Regions from separate parts of the Homo sapiens genome. Here region 2 is linked to region 1. The links come from fine-mapping of genetic effects on gene expression. A gene starts in region 1. The other region holds a variant in brackets. All regions are shown on one strand. Distances are from middle to middle.

The links.
Region 2: its variant is fine-mapped to the expression of NLN in whole blood (TOPMed, PIP above 0.99). The same link has a PIP of 0.9 or more in blood mononuclear cells.

What each region holds. Positions count from the first base shown.
Region 1 is chr5:65,716,995-65,727,504 of GRCh38, forward strand. NLN (neurolysin) reads left to right here and starts at 5,211. Exons shown (of 13, transcript NM_020726.5): 1 at 5,211-5,420. The coding sequence starts at 5,380. It overlaps SGTB (small glutamine rich tetratricopeptide repeat co-chaperone beta), which reads right to left and starts at 5,115. Exons shown (of 11, transcript NM_019072.3): 1 at 4,923-5,115; 2 at 3,714-3,835. The coding sequence starts at 3,813. RefSeq lists silencers at 2,445-2,641, 4,686-4,735, 4,796-4,845, 4,916-5,525, 10,311-10,360 and enhancers at 5,802-6,623, 6,396-6,475.
Region 2 is chr5:65,782,232-65,792,741 of GRCh38, forward strand. It overlaps NLN (neurolysin), which reads left to right. Exons shown (of 13, transcript NM_020726.5): 7 at 3,544-3,679; 8 at 5,887-6,253; 9 at 10,223-10,424. Among named protein-coding and RNA genes, the nearest start is that of NLN, 65 kb to the left of the region's middle. The variant A/G (reference allele first, on the strand shown) is at 6,043.

The sequences.
Region 1 (10,510 bases):
CCAAGAAAGTATGAGGTATCCTGGAAACTAAATAAAATATACTGGGGGTGGTGGGGGTCATTTCATGAGGAAATGACCATCAACATTATCAATGACAGCTAATAACTCAGATGAAAGCTGAGAACTGACCATTAAATTAAACAACACAGAAATCACTAATGTCCTTGATGAGAGTGGTATAGATTGAGAGATTGAGGCAAAGGCTTAATCAGAATGGGTTTAAGAAGAATAGAAGGAGAGGAGTTGGAGAAAGCAAGTATAGACCATTCTTTCAAATGGTTTTGCTGCAAAGGGAGACATACAATTAAGCAGTAATTATTTGCTGTTTGTTTTTGCTTTTTTGAAGAAGGGAGAATAATGGTAAGTTTATATGATGATGGAAATGATCCAGTAGGGTATGAAAATTTTATGATGTAAGATTAAAAAAATAAAATAACTAAAGTGATATCCTGGAGTAGGTGAGACAGGATGGGATCTAGTATACCAGTAGAGGGGTTCCATTTAGAAAGGAACATGAATAGTCCATCTATGGTAATAGCTAGTCAAACAGGCAGGCAGGCCGAGTATGTGGGTGCCATCATATCCAGCTATTTTCTTATTATTTCAGCTTTCTTGGTGGAGTAGAAAGCAAGGTAACCAACTAAAAGTGAGGACAGTGAAGGAGGTTTGAGGGTTTGAGAAGATATGAGAAAGTGTTAAAATGGTCATCTAGGAAAATAAATGTATGAATGAACTTAGAACAGATACTGTGATTGCCTGACAGCATTAAAGGTCTACTTGAAGTTCACAGTCATGAATTTAAAGTGGGACTAGTCAGCAAAGTTGTGTGTTTTGCTCCATTTATTTACGGCTACATGAGTGGGTGTGAGTAGTTGGGCACAAAGTAGGTGGAGAGTTGGATTTAAACAAAGTTGGGCTTTGCAAGAAAGGGAAGGAGATACAAGGGAATAATTATAATTATCAACCATGGAATTTAAGATGAGTAAGAAGAGGTGTGGGGAAAGGTGAGGCATGAACAGATTGGAGGTACTGGTTGGGTCAAAGAATAGCTGGAGTAGGGATTCTAGAGGGAGTAATCTTGGAAAGACAGGCAATAGTGGTCAGGAAGTGAAATGTTTGGGATAGAGATTAGGGAAGGAATGCAATTCTGGTAATGATTAAGTCTAGGGAAGGCTTTCTCAATCTCCGCATACTGACATTTTGGATCAGGTAATTTCTTCTTGTCAGGGGCTGTCCTGTGCATTAGCAGCATCCATGGCCTCTACCTACTCACTAGATGCCAATAATACCAGCCACCCGCCTCACCCAGTTGTGACAATCAGAATGTATCCAGATATTGCAAAATCACCCCCAAGTTGAGAACCACTGATCTAGAATATGATCAAGTGTTTGAGATCACTGGATGAGGTCAATAACTGAGAGCCAGGGAACTAAAATAATCATCAATCAGTATATTGCAATTGCCAAGAACTAAATAGGAGTAGTGCTAGAGAGAGTGACAGTGAGCAGGAACCACAATTAGTCAAGGAATGAAGCAAATGTCAGTAGATGACAATAATTAAGAGGAGTGGGTGACATAATCTGATGGCAAGACAAAGCTGATGATATACCAGCTTCACAGTAGTGGTAAAGCTGGTATTAGAACTGAGGCTTCTTTCCTAGGGCTTTTAAAAATGTCTAGAAGGTGGGCAGACACCTCCACATGATTTCATGTTCAATTAAATTAGACTCACAGAGTCAAAAATAGGGGTCAGTCAAAAACAATTGGCACCCTTTCTGACTGCCATATATAACAAACAGCTGAAGGCACATATTTTTGGCTGAATACCATCCTAAAAATAGGACATAACATCTTGGTTTGAAAAAAAAACCCTCAATTTTCTTTCTGGCCCTTAAAACTTTTATGCTGCTTTTGATTAGAAAAGAAACATCTTTTCTTAAATGACTGCATTTATCTGTTTGCTACAGAGCAATCATAACTAACATTCTCCTTAGATAACCAATCAACTTTATTTTCACATAGTCTAATCATCAAGGAGAACAAAAAGACCTTAATATTAAATGGACTGATTGCAATGTTCTCCAACTGTGCATCACCTGCTCCTCTCACTGCCACCTGGAAAGACATCAACTAACCAGACTGCAAGGAGGTTTAGAGCAAATGCCCAATTTTCATCTCCACCTCCTAAAAGCATATTCACAGGGAAATGCTTGTTGAAATTATAGAAGCAGTTTCAAGATGGGATTTATAACTATACTGTCATTTATTAAGTTCTTCCAAATGCACTCTCACTGCAATAATTAAGACTTTGGGGCTGGGAGGGGTGGCTCATGCCTGTAATCTCAGTACTTTGGGAGGCCAAGGCGAGTGGATCACTTGAGCCCAGGAGTTTGAGAACAGCCTGGGCAACATGGCGAAACTCTGTCTCTACAAAAAAAAATACAAAACTTAGCCGGGTGTGGTAGTGTACTCCTGTAGTCCCAGCTACTCAGGAGGCCGAGGTGGGAGGATCAATTGAGCCCAGGAGGTGGAGGTTGCAGTGAGCCGAGATTGTGCCACTACACTCCAGCCTGGGTGACAGAGCCAGACAGACCCTGTCTCAAAAAATAAATAAATAAATAAAAGACTTTAGGCCACAGGGACACCAGATTCACTGAACCTCCACAAGCCCATCTGCAGAATTCTACCTTGTTATGGTTGTACTGAATTTAAATTTTATAACACATAAACATGAAGAACAAAGACGGTGTCGAGGAAACACATGATGCTATCACCCACATCCTGTTCAACTTTACAGATTACCGAATCCAATATTAAAGTTAACGTAAAACACAGGTGAAATGCTCCCATTTCAAGTTCCAAATTAGGCACTGGTCAGATCTCACTAGTGGTATAATTATTAGACTTTTACATAGTGCTATTAAAATGACTCAGGTATTTTTATATATTATTTCTAAACTGGATGCTTTCCTATTAGGAAATGGAGACAACAAGATCTTCAGAGTATTAACCAGGATTTAAATCTCAGCTTTATCACATATCAGCTGTGTTATCTGCTTACGCTATTTGGTTTCATTTTCTTTTTCTTTTTTTTTTTTTTTTTTTGAGATAGGGTCTCGCTCATGGCCCAGGCTGGAGTGCAGTGGTGTGATCTCAGCTCACTGCAACCTCCACCTCCTGGGTTTAAGCCACCCTCCTATCTCAGCCTCCTGAGTAGCTGGGACTACAGGCAAGTGCCACCACACCTGGCTACTTTTTGTATTTTTAGTAGAGACAGGGTTTTGCCATGTTGCCCAGCCTGGTCTTGAACTCCTGACCTCAAATGACCTACCTGCCTCGGCCTCCCAAAGTGCTGGGATTACAGGCATGAGCCACCAAGCCTGGCCCTGGTTTTATTTTCTCACTTGTTAAATGGGGATAATACTAACATAACAGTTGCTGTGAAGAAAAAATTGCCTATAATATGAACAGCATACTTCTGACATATAGTATTTGTTCAATAAATGAACAATAGTCCTCTTAATTTGTTGTTAAAACAAACAAAACAAGCTTCAGAAAATGGAAATACGATAACCTTATAGTCAGGCCTCTCCTCTTGAAAGATCAAAAAAAATTCTGATTATGTTACAATAGATCATCAAGTTGGGCTTACAGCTATTTTAGTCTTCGTTTATAATTATAATATAAATGAACACAAAGAGCAGATGCATACCTTCCAAACTTTCTTGTTCATCCGAGGTGTAAGTGTCCATCTGACTTTGTTCCCGTAAGAAACGAATAACTGCATAAACCAGGTGCTTGATAGATGACATTTTAGAAGCTTAAACACTTTTCCTTGATAAGAAAAATGAAAACACTGAACTAAGTTATTTTAAAGAATCAGTCAGGAAAGTCATAAATTACAAAGATGATATGGGTTATAAAGTGTATTAAAGGTAAAAACAAAACACAAAACTGTATGACCTTTCATCTTTTCTCTTTGTAAAGAGTCAGGAGAGCACAAAGTATTGTGAAGGTAATTTATTACATATTTTCATTAATACCCAGTGGTATACGAGTATGTTAAATCTTGGAATAAGTAAAAATGTCTTCAAAACATGTACAGCATAAGCTTAGACTGTCACTGCATATCTCACCATACAGAAATCCCCTAAAGGCCTCAGTACTAAGTTAAGAGGCATTTCATACTGCTGACTAAAAGCTGATGTATACCAAGCATCTTCCTCTTTTTCATGGGATCTAAAAAAAGTATTAATAATGTACACTCTACCCACTTTTGTAGGTTGAGAGTTATTTGATGAGGAAACACATTCGCGAAAGGTTATTCAAGTGGTGAGTGTCGTTCTTAATAAAAATGGCATTTCTATTTAATCAGCAGACATGTCAGGAAATCGCTGCCCAAGTCGATGGATACTACAAGCCGACCGGCGCTCCCTGCAGAGGCTGTGCTCTCGTGGACAAGCTGGAAGCTCCCGGTCATGTTCATTCACATGGAATACTATCGCATCCAAACAGTGGCGCAGGGCCAGGCGGCATTCATGGCTGATTTCCACCAAATCGCATCATCCATCTGCTCCCCAGGTTCCCTAATTCAAAGCCAGGGTGTGGTACCCGCCGCTATAATGTTTATTATTTGTGTAGTTATTTTAAAGGCGATGTCAGCCTCTAGGCCACGGGGTCATAAGCACTAAATAAGGCCCCAGGGCAGAAGGTAAAAACAGAATGGGGGGAAAAGGGGTGAGAAGAGGGAAATAGGCTTCTCCCCCTTCCTCTCCCCAGAGCGCATCGAGCTCCCCCTCCCTTCCGTCCTCCCTCAGGTACCCGGCCTCGCCTCGGCCCTGCCCGGTGTGCAGCGGGTGCCGGTGCGGGCCCCGGTCCGGAGCGGCGGGAGGCGCACCCTTGCCAGACAGAAGCCCCTTACCAAGCAGGAGGACGCGAGACGACTGCTGCTGGCCCGCGGGGTTCCGTAGGCAGGCCCGCCCGACCCCTGGTCCTCGGGGCTGGAGCCCGGCTCGGGATCGCAGCACTGGTCGCGGCGGCGCAAACTTCCCCGGCCCCTAGGCCGTAGACCCCAGAACCCACCAGGCTGTGCTCTCTCTCAGGCGGCAGGGTCTGGCCAGCACCGCCCCTGGGGCGGGGCCGGACGCGAGGGCTGGGGCGGGGCCAGACACGCGAGCTGGGGCGGGGCACGGCGCGGGGCGGGGCTGGTAGGCGCCGGCGTGGAGCTGCCGCACGTGGGAGGGCGCTGGCCAGGCAGCCACTGTGGCCTCTGCGGCTAGGCCGGCTCGAGACTCCCGGGCGCCCAGGCGCTGCCGCCCGCCTCGCCGCCCCACGCCGAAGGACCACGCGCCCGCCGCCGCCAGCCTCTCAGCGCTCCCATGATCGCCCGGTGCCTTTTGGCTGTGCGAAGCCTCCGCAGGTACCTCCAGCGCGCGGGTTAACCTTGGCCGTGGGCAGGGCGGGGTCTTTCGCCGTGTGGTGCCTGGAGCCCGGACCCACCCCTTCCCGACCGCGCCTCTCCGACGCTCCCGGGACGCACCCTCCCCGCGGCTTGCAAGGTGGACCCCTGGGGGACACCTGGCGCGGCCACCTGGGGCCACCTTTCCCGCCTCCGCTCCCTCGGGAGGACGTCCATTCCTCTTTGTTTGGGACTGCCTCAGCCGCAGTCAGCGAGGCTGGTCACAGACGCGGCCCAAAATGAATGCAAATAGTTTGGATAAGAAAATCATTTCACGTTCAATCCCAATGCAGAACTACAGACCTGTCATTAAAAGTGCCGCAGCTGTGGACTCAGAACAATTGTGTTTGCTCCTCGCGCCCATTATTAGCATTCCAATCGTTTAACATCCACCCGAGATGAAACCTCTTTGGTGGTGTTGCTTGTTTCCGTCCATGCTCTCTGACTTCCTTTTTTATTTTCCTCCTCCCCATAAAACAAACATTCTGCCTCTTGCCGGTGCAAATTGACTTGGCCCAAAATGGAGAAAATGATCGCTTGGACACGGCTTTGGGCAGCCTGAGCTGCTGTTTTGGATTGCTTCCTAGCCCTCTAACCACACCCCACTGCAACAGACCAGTAGCAAGATGGTGAGGGAATTAAATTCTTTGCACGGATGCGCTGGTTTTCGGAAACAATGCCGCCACCATCCCCGTTTCCAAATCTGCCCAGAACTGTAAATCCAAATGAAGATTCAACAGAATAAAGAAAATGTGTGCTTCTTGCTAGCTATCAACAAAACTACTTTGTAACATGTCAGCATTTAAGCTTTCTACAGTTCCCTTTTGCACATTGCCACTCGTCTGTGTGGATGGAGCTTTGTGTTGCTCAGTCCGTAGAGTTAGGGAGCAGGCAGGCGACAGTGGTTAATTACAAAGAGTTAATGTGGTGATTGGTGACCATATTTCAGCCTGTCGTTTTTTGCTAGTCTCCAGGCTGCAATCGATATAGCTGTCAAATGAAGTTATACCAAGAAATGAAGACTTCACATAATGCAGGGGTGAGAGGAGGGAATAAATCTTCATATAAGAGCAATTCTCGGCCGGGCGCTGTGGCTCATGCCTGTAATCCCAGCACTTTGGGAGGCCGAGGCGGGTGGATCACGAGGTCAGGAGATCGAGACCATCCTGGCTAACACGGTGAAACCCCGTCTCTACTAAAAAATACAAAAAATTAGCCGGGCGTGGTGGCGGGCGCCTGTAGTCCCAGCTACTCGGGAGGCTGAGGCAGGAGAATGGCATGAACCCGGGAGGCGAAGCTTGCAGTGAGCCGAGATCGCACCACTGTACTCTAGCCTGGGCGACAGAGCAAGACTCCGTCTCAAAAAAAAAAAAAAAAAAAAAAGAACAATTCTCAAACTTTTTATTCTCAGGACCCCTTTACCTTTCAAAAATTACCGTGGACCTAAGAGCTTCTGTTTGTGTGGTATATCTGTCTATATTTACCATATTAGACATTAAAGCTGGAAAAAAATTAAAGTAGTTGTTAATTTACAAAACTAATAAATAGGCTAGGTGCATAAATAGTGATTTTAATGAAAAATAACTATTTTCCAAACCAACCCCCCCGCCCCCCAATCAGTGAGAAGATTAACATTGTGGGGTTTTTTCCCTTTTTTTTAAAATTGTGGTAAGATATAACAAAATTTACCATTTTGATAATTTTTAAGTGTACAATTGAGAGGTACAGCCAACACCACTGTCCATCTCCAGAACTTGTCATCATCCCAAACTGAAACCCTGTACCTATTACACAATAACTGCCCATTACTTCCTCCCCCAATCCCTGGTTAACCATTATTTTTTCTCTATGAATTTGAGTATTTCAGGTCCCTTATATAAGTGGAATTAGACAATATTTGTCCTTTTGCGTCTGGTTTATTTAGTATAGCGTTTTTAAGGTTTATTCGTTTTGAAGCATGTGTCGGGATTTCCTTTTTAAAACTGAATAATATTTCATTGTATGTATATACCACATTTTGTTTATCCATTTGTCAGTGGACATTTGGGTTGCTTCCACCTTTTGGCTATTGTGAATACTACTACTATGATCATTAATGTGCACATGTCTGTTTGAATCCCTGCTTTTAATTCTTTGGGATACTGTATGTACCTAGAAGTGAAAATTGCTGAGTCATAGGATAGTACTATGTTTAGTTTTTGAAACCATACTGTTTTCTTCAGTGGCTGTACCATTTTTACATTCCCATTGGCAGTACCTAAGGATTCCAATTTCTCCACATCATCATCAGCACTTATTTCCTGGTTTTGATAACAGTTATCCTAGGAGTGGCATTGTTTCTTTTTTTTTTCTTTTTTTTTTTTTTTGAGACAGAGTCTCTCTCTGTCGCCCAGGCTGGAATGCAGTGGCGCTATCTCGGCTCACTGCAAGCGCCGCCTCCCGGGTTCACGCCATTCCCCTGCCTCAGCCTCCCAAGTAGCTGGGACTACAGGCGCCCGCAACCACGCCCGGCTAATTTTTTTTTTTTATTTTTAGTAGAGACGGGGTTTCATCCTGTTAGCCAGGATGGTCTCGATCTCCTGACCTCGTGATCCGCCTGTCTCGGCCTCCCAAAGTGCTGGGATTACAGGCGTGAGCCACTGCGCCCGGCAGAAGTGGCACTGTTTCGCATTTTTGCAAAACTAATGTGTGACATAATAGAAGGTAACTGGATTCTTATGTCTGCCTCTGCATTTAAGCTGCTGCACTGTTTCATTTTGGTTTAAGATGAAGAAAATCCCACCTCACAGTCATATGAAGTTGGAAAGAAGAATATTTTAATAGCTTTTTAAAGATAATCATGGATGTTCTTTGATATCACATCAAAGTTTGACAAATCGTAGCTTTTTAAAGGTTAGTTACAAAGTGGAATTTGAAACTATATCAATGTACTTGTTTTACACTGTTACATTAATATCCAATGGTGTACCTTACACTTTGAATGGATGTTGAATCCATGCCTGTTTTTTAAAACATTAAGCATAAGTCCTTCGGAAATTTTAGTGGTTCACTGTGTTATACAGTTCTTCCTAATGTTGACATATTTCATTATACAGTATCAAACAATCACTTTCCTTAATGTCTTCCTATTTAGTCGGAAAAGTCTTCAAGTATTGGGAAGCTGTCAAGCTCACAGTGGCAGATAGGATTTTCCAAAATTCTAGTTTTCACTTGAAAGCTAGAATTTTATCATTGGTAACACAAACTGTCAGTTGTTTTACTTGAAGTGACAATCTCACTTTGTTACATTTTTGACAGAATTTCTGCCACATACTTAAGTCTGAATAACCCTGGTTTGTCTGTCAGTAGTTTTTTTCTGGTAAAAATGGTGTTCCATGGGCTGGGCACGGTGGCTCACGCCTGTAATCCCAGCACTTTGGGAGGCCATGGCAGGTGGATCACGAAGTCAGGAGATCGAGACCATCCTGGCTAACACGGTGAAACCCTGTCTCTACTGAAAATACAAAAAATTAGCCGGGCGTGGTGGCGGGCGCCTGTAGTCCCAACTACTCGGGAGGCTGAGGCAGGAGAATGGCGTGAACCCGGAAGGTGGAGTTTGCAGTGCGCCGAGATTGTGCCACTGCACTCCAGCCTGGGCGACAGAGCGAGACTCCGTCTCAAAAAAAAAAAAAAAAAAATGGTTTTCCATGAAAAAAATCTATTTCAGCTCACAGTTCAACCAATTGCAAAAGTGCTTTTGATTTGGGCAACCAAATCCTCAGGACAACCCTTATACTCAGGTACACAGCAGAAATGCTTTGTGTGTACTTGGTCACATATAACTCAAAGGTAGAGATTTAATAAAAATTCATACTTTTTACCATTTCATTAAGGATATTCTAAAATGAAATTGACATTATTTTTAGCCTGAGTGCATGGCAATGAAAAATATAGCTACTAGTATAGTTTGGTGTCATTGCCTCAATTTGTGCTGAAGTACCAACAGTATTATCCACCATTCCTTTTCGCCATCAGTGCAAATGTTCATAAAGTAAAAAGGATAAATAATGTCTTAGTATTGTTATGAAAGATTTTTAACCTCACAGATTCCTTGAAAGTGTCTCAGGAACCCCTCCCCATACCTCTACCTTTAAGGTTTGTGGACTACATTTTGAGAGCTGCCGATATGTGGTATTAGATTCTTTGTTTATGCATGGAAGAAAATAAATATACTAATAGCCAAAAAATTATTACCTTGTTAGAAGCTACCATAAATATATTAACTAATTTGTTACATAAGGGCATATCTTACAGTTAATCATCATATATGGTAGTCCTTAACCCAGGGCTTCCTTGACTTAATCACAGAATCTGCTCTGTTTCAAAATCAGTATCTTCCAAAAGAGTTCATATTAGACAACATGGAGGACCCCCTGTGTTCTCCTGTTTTTCCTGTTTCCTCTGACACTTGGGAGTTCATTTTAGTGTTATGGAGTAACTAGGCTTTTGCCTAACTGACTTACAGTTTCCATTGGGTTTTCTTGTTGGCAGAGCTGCTATATCCCCTTCCCAAGGCCAGCTTCCAGCTAGGATCATTGATTGGGGTGTTCAGCCAACTTCTTGGGAATAAGTGGACTGAGAATCTGGAGTTTGGATTATAGTTGCTGTTCAATTCACTTTGTGACCTTAAAAAAATCACTCACTCCCTTGGACCTCTTTCAAGTTATGTACCTATGTATGTATGTATTTTAGAGACAAGGTCTCACTCTGTCATCCAGGCTGAAGTGCAGTGGGGCATGATCATGGCTCACTGCGGTCTCAAACTCTGGTTTCAAACAATCCTCCCTGCCTCAGCCTTCTGAGTAGCTGGGACTACAGGCGCTCACCACCATGCCCAGCTAATTTGAAAAAATTGTTTGTAGAGATAGGATCTTGCTATGTTGCCGAGGCTAGTCTAGAATTCCTGGCCACAAATGATCCTCCCATCTCAACCTCTGAAAGTGCTGGGATTACAGGAGTGTACTATCATGCCTGGCCCAGGTTCCTTATATTGTAAAATGAAAAGGACTAGA
Region 2 (10,510 bases), 65 kb after region 1:
TTGTTTTTGTCCATTATCCTTGATGACCATATCTTGGGGGACTGCTGGTCCTGCTAATGTCAGGTAGAATCCCAAGGGTTGCTTTAGGGATCAAATAATCCAAACTTTTGTAGGCCAGACTTACGATATCTTTGGTAATACAGCCTCCTCAAAAATGTAGGTTTGTTGTCTGTTTGCTGCTAATCAGATGCATGTCAAAATAACTATACCCAAATATCACTTTTGGTCATAGTTCTTAAACTTGCCAAATCTTATATACTGTCTTCTGAATTTATCCATCTCACTCTTCCTCCATTTAATGAAGTCTGCTTTCAGGCCCTCTGAACATAGTGAGCTTGTGGAGGAAGGCAGCATTCTCAAATTCATGTCTGCAGTTCAGTAACTCGGAGTGACAGCCTTTTCTCTTAACACTAGGAACACAGAGCAATTGGCTTTTCCAACCATCTGAAGATTGTAGGCCATAGGCAGAACCTCCCTGAGCAGAATTCTTTTCCTTCCATCTTTAGAAACTGGCCAATTCTCACCCAAGCTTATCTCTCCCATGTAATCTTTCAAAAAGCAACAAATGCCAAAAAAACACCTCCCAACAGTATTAGCTTTCCCAAACAATTCCTCTAGGCTAAGACTCAGTAGGTACATGGCCTGCTGTCTGAGTTATGGCAAGCAACAGTTTTCACAAATGCCCATGGTATAATGAGAACCTGCTTCCCAGCCTGCAATGTCTGGGTCCTTACCTTCCATTCCTGTACATTTTTCATTTTTATTGTTAGTACCACCCAATTTCTGGTATTAATCTCTACATATGTTAGGGTCCAGGCTAAGGGACTTGACAGAAGTCAAAAGCACAGTTAACTCAAATAAGATAAAAGTTTTATCTTTCCAGAAAGTAGATTAGAGGTTACCAGGGAATGGGGAGAGGGAAGACTGAGGAGTTAATGGTTACAGAGTTTCTGTTTGGGGTAATGGATAAGTTTTAGAAACAGATGATGGTAGTGGTTGCACAATAGAATGAGTATTATTGCCGTTGAATTTTACATGGCTAAAATGGCAGATTTTACCACAATTTTTTTTTAAAAGATTTGTCTTATAACTGTAAGTCAAGAGGTGAGTGGTCCAGAGGTGGAAGACAGCTCTACCATCCTCAGGGTGTGGCTTTCAGGGTCATTGAGGTCATCTTCAGTTCACAGCCAGCAAGGCAAAGATCTATCAGACATGACCCAGAAATTTCACTCATCACTTCATTCACATCCCATTGTCCCATTGAGTATCACATGGCCACAGCTGGCTTTGAGGAAGGCTGGGAAACGTAATTAGGTAACCAAGTGTCCGGCAAAAATTCAGAGTTCAGCCAGGCACAGTGGCTCACACTTGTAATCCCAACGCTTTGGGAGGCCAAGGCAAGAGGATTGCTTGAGGCCAGGAGTTCAAGACCAGCCTCAGCAATATGGCAAGACCTCACCTCTATGAAAATTAAAAAAAAAAAAAAAATTCAGAGTTATATTACTAAAAGAAAAAATGAGAGAACAGATATTGGGAGAAAATTGGCAGTCTAGAGAGAAGATCTGGAGAAACTGCAAAAAATGAAAGAAAAATCTAATTAAACTATTTAATTTTAGAACTTGGAGAATTACATTATGTATGTTTCTCTTCTATGTTTTCCATTTTAGTTTTAAAATAATAATAATTATAACAGATAATTATATAGTGTTTGGTTATGTGCCAGGCATTTGTCTAAGCACTTTACATATATTTTCATTTGAATCTTCATGATTACTCTCCAGTGTATGTATTTTTATTTTCCACATCTTGCAAATGAGAAAACTGAGGGTCAGAAAGCTCCAGAATTTGCCCAAGATCAGGTAACTAGTAAATGGTGGAACCAAATTTTGAATGCAGGTAGTGTGACCTCAGTGTGTGATTTTCCTTAGAAACCAGTCTATAAATAATTTGCTGATTTGATTATTGGAATCAGTTTTTTCTTTTACTTTAACATTTACTTACTTCCTCTAGGAGAATTACTTTTATTTCATTGCTAAGAAAATAATAAAATAATATCAATTTTTGTATTTTTAATACAAATAAAATATAAAAGATATTTGTAATGTTAATTTGGGAAAAATCCCTGAAACATTTTTAAAAGCAGAATTTTATGGTGCCTTAGTTCATTTGTGCTGCTATAACAAAATACCACAGACGAAGTAATTTATGAACAATAGAAATTTTTCACAGTTCTGAAGGCTGAGAAATTCAAGATCAAGGGGCATCGGCATTCAGTGTCTAGAAAGGGCCTTTTTTCTATATCCTCACATGGCAGAAGGGGGAAGGGCAGAAAAGGCCCAAGTTCTTTAGCTGTAGCCCTTTTATAAGGCACTAATTCATTGGTCAATTCCCAAAAGGCCCTGCCATTTAACACTACCTCAAAAGGGATTATGTTTCAACACATGAATTTTGGGGAACATTCAGACCATAGCATGTGGCATTAAGTATATTCACATTGAGAATATGTTTATATTTTTCTGCAGCCATCACCTGTATCCACCTGCAGAGTTTTTTCATCTTCCTTAACTGAAACTCTACCCATTAAGCATTAACTCCCCATTATCCCCTATCCCCAGGCCCTGGCAATTACTATTCTATTCTGTGTCTCTGTGAATTTCACTACTCTAGGAACTTCATATAAGTGGAATAATAAAATATTTGTCTTTTTGTATCTGGCTTATTTCACTTAGCATACCTTAAAGGGTCATCCATGTTGTAGCATGTGTCAGAATTTCCTTCCTTGTAAAGGCAGAGTTATATTCCATTGTATATATATACCACATTTTGTTTACCTGTATATCTGTCCATGGACACTTGGGTTGCTTCCATCTTTTGGCTGTTATAAATAATGCTGCTGTGGACATGGGTGTATAGATCTCTCTTCGAGTCTCTGCTTTCAATTATCTTTGTTATTTACTGAGATGTAGAATTGCTGGATCATATGGTATAATTTTTTTAGGAATCACCATACCGTTTTCTACAGCAGCTAAACTACTTTACATTCTCATCAGCAATGTGCAAGGGTTCCAATTTCTCCATTTCCTCACCAGCACATTTTCTATGTTTTTAAAAATAGTAGCCATACAACTGGGTATGAAATTAAAAAGATAAATTTTACGTTATGTGTATTTTACCACAATAAAAATGTCCAAAGGAACTGAAAGTACCAATATTTGGTGCAGTTCTGTCAGTAGAAGTAAATATGGATTCGCTATATTCCTTAAAAATATATTTTCACTCTAAGTTTGTAGCACCTACAATTTTATTAAGACCTCATAGTTCTGAAGTTTAAAAAGTCATAAATTGTTTCAGAAATAAAACGAAATCATGAATCCAAAAAAAAAAAAAAAAGCCTATAACACCAAAATGGAACCAGAAATTTAAATGGTCTAAAAATATTTGATAATTTTACAAACCTAAAAATACATACAGTAATTCTTCCTTTTAGTGCTTTGGATCAAATTATTGATTAGCCTTTATTTTGTTGCTGTTGTTTATTACTAGGAAAACACCATAATTTTGCAGCAGCTACTCCCACTGCGAACCAAGGTGGCCAAACTACTCGGTTATAGCACACATGCTGACTTCGTCCTTGAAATGAACACTGCAAAGAGCACAAGCCGCGTAACAGCCTTTCTAGGTTAGTTCTTTTTTTTTTTTCTATGACTGTTTTGCTATACCATGTCAACCAGACAGAAGGCCTCAGAACATAATATGCCTTTGAGGACATCCTACTTTTCCTTCATTTGAGAGAAGTATATTGATCACCTATTAAGTGTTAGATAGTGTGCTTGGTTGTAGGGACTGCTTATTGTTTATATTGCTAGTATAGGCCTGGCTTCACTGTATCTTATATCTTCTTTAGGCTTTTTATACTAATTCCTAACATGACATGTAGGTTCTAACAGAGAGTTACTAAAGTTACTGGCTTTATTCTCTTCACTAGGGATTTAGTAGTCATAGCATGGCTGCTTATGAATTTGTATAAAATAAGCTGACAAATATGACGTACATAAAAATAAAACATACATAAACAAAAAACATTTAATATTCCAGAAACCACTTGTTAATATACAAAACTAATATAAAATAATATACATAAAACTAGTATCTAATAACTAATATAAAATAATATGTATAAAAACTGTTATCTAGTAACTATAATGTTAAACTCCATAAATGGTACATATTTGTTTTTGTATAATTCACTCATTCATTCATGAGACGTTTATGAAATAACTATTCAGCCTTAGGCAGTATGCTAAATAGTAGGATTACAGAAAGGAGTAAAACAAGGTCCTTTTGGCTGGGCATGGCAGTTCATGCCTGTAATCCCAGCACTTCGGGAGGCCGAGGTGAGAGGACTACTTGAGACCCAGAGTCCAAGACCAGCTTGGGAAACAAAGAGACCCCAACCCTGTCTCTACAGAAAAATTTAAAAATTAGCCAGGCATGGTAGCACATGCCTGTAATTCTAGCTACTTGGGAGGCTGAGGTGGGAGGATCCCTTGAGCCCAGGAGTTCAAGGCTGCAGTGAGCCATGATCATGCCACTGTGCTCCAGCCTGGGTGACAGAGCAAAATCCTGTCTCTAAAAATAAAAATAATTTTTTAAAAAGAGACAAGGTCTTTTTCTCAATGGATTTGTCACTTACTAGAAACAACAGAAGTGTGAACAGGTAATTACTCTACAGTCTGATGCATGGTATACAAGAGGATGGCTCAGAGAGTTAACAGGTTTGTAAAGAATGTTTCCTTCAGTGGTGATTGCATACACTAAAATTTTCCTTAGTAACCACCTGATTAACTTAATTCATTTAAAGGAGTTTTCCTTCTAATTTGAGATTGGCATATTCCTATGCAAAGTGTCCTCTTGAGAGGCTAAAGTGCGAGGATCCCTTGAATCTGAGAGTTGGAGTCCAGCCTGGGCAACATAGCAAAACTCACTCACTCTCTCTCTCTCTCTTTATATATATATATATGTATGTGTGTGTGTGTGTGTGTGTATACATACATGCGCACACACAGACACATGCACGCACACATGCACATGGATATATATATGGAAAACTATATCTTTGTATCCTCCATGAGTTTCCTCACTTCTCTTCACGGTATTCCTCGGGCTGCTCCTCCATCTCTCACATTGTGAGGTTGCCTTCTGAACTGCCATGTCCTTTGCAGAGCCAGGCATGTTTTTATCGTAACGTATGTAACAAAATGTAAAAAATAAATACATAAGACCATACTCATTTATCCAAATACAGTAAAGTGAAAAATTGACCACAGCAATATAATTTGTGGTTCTCAGAAGTTTCTCCAGCTAAAAACTGGAATTGCTGTGTCCAGATAAACCTTCACAGAAATGGGGTAATGAGAAACTAAACCCAGTGATAGGAATTTCTAGATAACATTGACCACAGGTCACATCTGATGTGTTTTCCCTAGCTTTCTTAGGAGTCTGACTGTCTTCATTGAAGAATAATCATGTACATGACTTTAGTTTCACTAGTGCTTTTTTCCCTGAATAACATTCTTCAGTCAGCGTTCTCTGAGATAAACTTGAGCTTTGGTGATGAATTGAGGAACTCATGGCCCAGTTCTGGGGGTGTTAAAAGAAAAAGGGGCTAGGACCATAAAATCAATAACCCCGAAGAGCAAAGTGTGCTTCCATAATACAGCCTGCTTTCCTCCCTCACGTTTTTCCTCCTCCTTTACCTCTTTCCGCCTTATTTATCTGTATTGAGTACTGCAAAGGAGGAAGCACCATGCTAAAACACAGGTGGTATTTATGAGTATGCTTGCTTCCAAAAGCAAGTAGATCACTAACTTTTCCTTTTCCTTACAGATGATTTAAGCCAGAAGTTAAAACCCTTGGGTGAAGCAGAACGAGAGTTTATTTTGAATTTGAAGAAAAAGGAATGCAAAGACAGGGGTTTTGAATATGATGGGAAAATCAATGCCTGGGATCTATATTACTACATGACTCAGACAGAGGAACTCA[A/G]GTATTCCATAGACCAAGAGTTCCTCAAGGAATACTTCCCAATTGAGGTGGTCACTGAAGGCTTGCTGAACACCTACCAGGAGTTGTTGGGACTTTCATTTGAACAAATGACAGATGCTCATGTTTGGAACAAGAGTGTTACACTTTATACTGTGAAGGATAAAGCTACAGGAGAAGTATTGGGACAGTTCTATTTGGACCTCTATCCAAGGTACTGAGGATCACGTTGTTGGAAGGGACCTTAGGGATTCAGCTATGCCTACTTTAAGACTCTACTCTTGGCCAGGCACAGTGGCTCATGCCTGTAATCCCAACACTTTGGGAGGCCAAGGTGGGAGGATTGCTTGAGGCTAGGAGTTCGAGACCAGCCTGGGCAACATAGTGAGGCCCTGTCTCTACAAAAAATTTAAAAATTAGGTCAAGTGTGGTGGCTCATGCCTGTAGTCCCAGCACTTTGGGAGGCCGAGGCAGGTGGATTGCTTGAGTCTAGGACTTCAAGACCAGACTGGGCAACATGGCAAAACTCTGTTGCTACAAAAAATACAAAAATTAGCCAGGTGTAGTGGTACATGCCTATAGTCCCAGGTACTTGAGAGGCTGAGGTGGGAGGATCACTTGAGCCTCAGAGGTGGAGGCTGCAGTGAGCCAAGATTGCAACACTGCACTCCAGCCTGGGTGACAGAGTGAGACCCTGTCTCAAAAAAAAAAAAATGAAAAATTAGCCAGGTGTGGTGTGCACACCTGTAGTCCTAGCTGTGCTGAAGCAGGAGGATCACTTGAGTCCAGGAGTTTAAGGTTACAGTGAGCTATTATCACACTGCTGCATTCTAGCCTAGGTGACAGAGCTAGACCCTATCTCTAAAAAAATTAATTTAAAAAAAGACTCTACTCTTCCATATTTCTCACATGGGCTTCTTAGTATACAGATTTAAAATGTGGGTCTGAAGCCAGAATGTCTGGCATCATCATTTACTAGGTAGGTTACTTAATTTTTCTGTGCCCCAGTTTTCTTACCTATATTATAGGTCCTATAAACTGGGAATATTAGTAGTACCTGCTTTGTATGGTCACTGTAAGGATTAAATTGGTTGAATACATGCAAAGCATTTAGAAGACTGCTCAGCACATAGCAAAGGCTTAATCAGAGTTAGCTGCTACCATTGTCATTATCATCATCATCTAGTTTGTGCACTACATTTACTTAATTGAATATTGACCACCACCCAGACATGGTGGCTCACACCTGTAATCCCAGCATTTTGGAAGGCTGAGGTGGGCAGATCACTTGAGGTCGGGAGTTCAAGATCAGCCTGGCCAATATGGTGAAACCCTGTCTCTACTAAAAATACAAAAATTTAACAGGCATCTGTAGTCTCAGCTACTTGGGAGGCCAAGGTATGAGAATAGCTTGAACCCTGGAACTGAGATCACGCCACTATACTCCAGCCAGGGCGACAGAGCAAGATTCTAACTCAAAAAACATAAATAAATAAAATTGAGCACCAAAATATTTATTAGATAATCTGTCTGCCAATAATCTATGGCCACTCCCTTCAGTCTGGCTGAGAGGCAGCACAGTTTAGTAGAAGTAGCAAAACCTTTGCAGTCAGTCAGATTTGAGTTTGAATGCTTGAGTGACATAACCTCTTTGAGATTCTGTTTCTTCCTCTGTAATATGGGACTGGAAATCCTTTTACAGGATTGTTTTATGCATTAAAGACTATATGTGCAAATCATCTTCCCCAGATATCAGTGGTAACAATTATAAAAATGTTATAATTGTGTCTATAGCATGTAATAACTATAGATTCCATAGTGTTTCATCAGATACAAAAGGATTTGGATCTCTTTCTCCCCAGGCTACTTTCTAAAGCAAAGTCAACCTCTTACAATTACTAATCATTTAAATAGATCAAAGGAGAGTATAGTATCCCCCTCATTCAGTAATACACACAAGTTTGTAATCCACTGACTTTGAGTGCTGAAAAGTAGGTTGAGTAACTGTGTCATCTAGTTGGTGGGCAGAAGTGTCTTTTAGCACCTAAGTGATTATCCTGGTGTATTAGTCCTTTCTCACAGTGCTGTAAAGAACTGACTGAGACTGGGTAATTTATAAAGGAAAGAAGTTTAATTGACTTACAGTTCTGCAGGGCTGGGGAGACCTCAGGAAACTTACAATCATGGCAGAAGGGGAAACAAACACATCCTTCTTCACGTGGCGGCAGGAAGGGGAAGTGCCAAGCCAACAGGGGAAAGCCCCTTATGAAACCATCAGCTCTTGTGAGAACTCACTCACTATCATGAGACTGGCTACCCCATGAATCAATTACTTCCCACTGGGTCCCTCCCACGACACGTGGGGATTATGAGAACTACAATTCAAGATAAGCTTTGGGTGGAGACACAGCCAAATCACATCACCTGCTGCTTTATGGACTTACTTTCACTAATATTATGACCTAAAAGTAAAACCCTGCCAAATATAGATGAGTCTTATTTTTAAATAAAAAGTATCAGGATATAGTTTTAACCGAAGAACTCTTTCAGGAGTAATCCTTTAATATTGGAGTCTCCTATAACTGTCCTCAGATTTTCTTTCCAGCGTCAAATAACAATTCTTGCTACCTCATTCTGCTGTCTCACTGCCAGGATATAATTAATTTCTTTTGTACTGAGAGATCTGGTCATTGCTACCAGCACCCTGGTGTGGGTAACAGAGAGTAATCTTTGTGAAAGTAGTGACCTAGTTAATACTTACTTCCTGTCATCTTAAGATGTTCTCTTCATAAAGGTAAAAGGGATTAACTTGTTTTATTTGTCTAACTGACTTTTAAAAAGGGTATTCAGAATAGGTTTTAAAAAGACCAGGTACTGTCTGGGTGCAGTGGCTGTAATCCCAGCACTTTGGGAGGCTGAGGCAGGTGGATCACTTGAGGCCAGGAGTTCAAGACCAGCTTGGTCAACATGGTGAAACCCCATCTCTAGTAAAAATACAAAAATTAGGCTGTGCACAGTGACTCACACCTATAGTCCCAGCACTTTGGGAGGCCAAGGAGGGCAGATCACCTGAGGTCAGGAGTTTGAGACCAGCTTGGCCAACGTGGGAAAACCCCATCTCTACTAAAAATACAAAAATTAGCTGGGTGTGGTGGCAGGCACTTGTAGTCCCAGCTACTCTAGAGGCTGAGGCAGGAGAATCATTTGAACCCAGGAGGTGGACATTATAGTTAGCCAGTATCTTGCCACCGCACCCCAGCCTGGGCAACAGAGCAAGACTCCGTCTCAAAACAAGAGAACAAAATTAACCAGCGTGGTGTTGTATATATGTAATACCAGCTACTCAGGAGGCAGAGGCAGGAGAATTGCTTGAACCTGGGAGGCAGAGGTTGCAGTGAGCTGAGATCATGCCACTGCACTCCAGCCTGGATGACAGAGCAAGACTCTGTCTCAAAAAAAAAAAAATAAAAAGACCAGGTACTATTAGTCTTCTGAGCAAAAGAAAAGGGGGAAAGGACACGTACTCCCAAAATGAAGTCTGATAGCTTTTGGAGAATGAAGTCTAATAGCTTTTGGAAAGACCACACAGATACGACACTGTACAAGAATAGTCTAATTGATAGTATAATTTATGCATTTTCCCAGGCTAACTAAAAGCATTCTGTTTCAAAAAGGCCTGTCTAGTTTATAAAAGAAGCTTATTTAATTGTGATTACTGATTCTTTCCTCCTCAAATAAAAGGAAAAACCTTATCGTCAGAAATTCAGTTTTTTATTCCGATTTTAATGAAAAGGCTGCCTAGTGAGTCAAACTGTATCTTTTATTTCAAATGTGGGTTTCAGCATTGTTTAGTGTTTAGTAATCCCATCTTTGAAAAAGAAAAGTAGAACCTCATTAAAATAAATTGGACATTCAGCTGTCGGTGTGACATGCATTCTTCATTCTTACCTCGAGATTTTTCAATAAAAGAAACTTCGGAGCTCACACAGAATGTTAGTGGGGTTATTGTTTGTTTAGCTTTAGTTTTTCCATTTTAGCAAAATAACCTACTTTCTAAAAGGTAAATTAATGTTTAAAGGCATCTCTGGTAACAGATATGGCTTAATGACTGGAAGAGGCCATGCCAGTGTAGTTGCTAGAGGAGAATTTTCCTATGTTGCCAACGCGTGTTTCTGGCTCCTAGGGAAGGAAAATACAATCATGCGGCCTGCTTCGGTCTCCAGCCTGGCTGCCTTCTGCCTGATGGAAGCCGGATGATGGCAGTGGCTGCCCTCGTGGTGAACTTCTCACAGCCAGTGGCAGGTCGTCCCTCTCTCCTGAGACACGACGAGGTGAGGACTTACTTTCATGAGTTTGGTCACGTGATGCATCAGATTTGTGCACAGGTGAGTTTTTTTTTTCCCCCAGTAAACCTGCCAATTAGTTTTTTTAGAAAACTTCTTGACTGCTGTCAGGTTTCTGCTCCTAACAG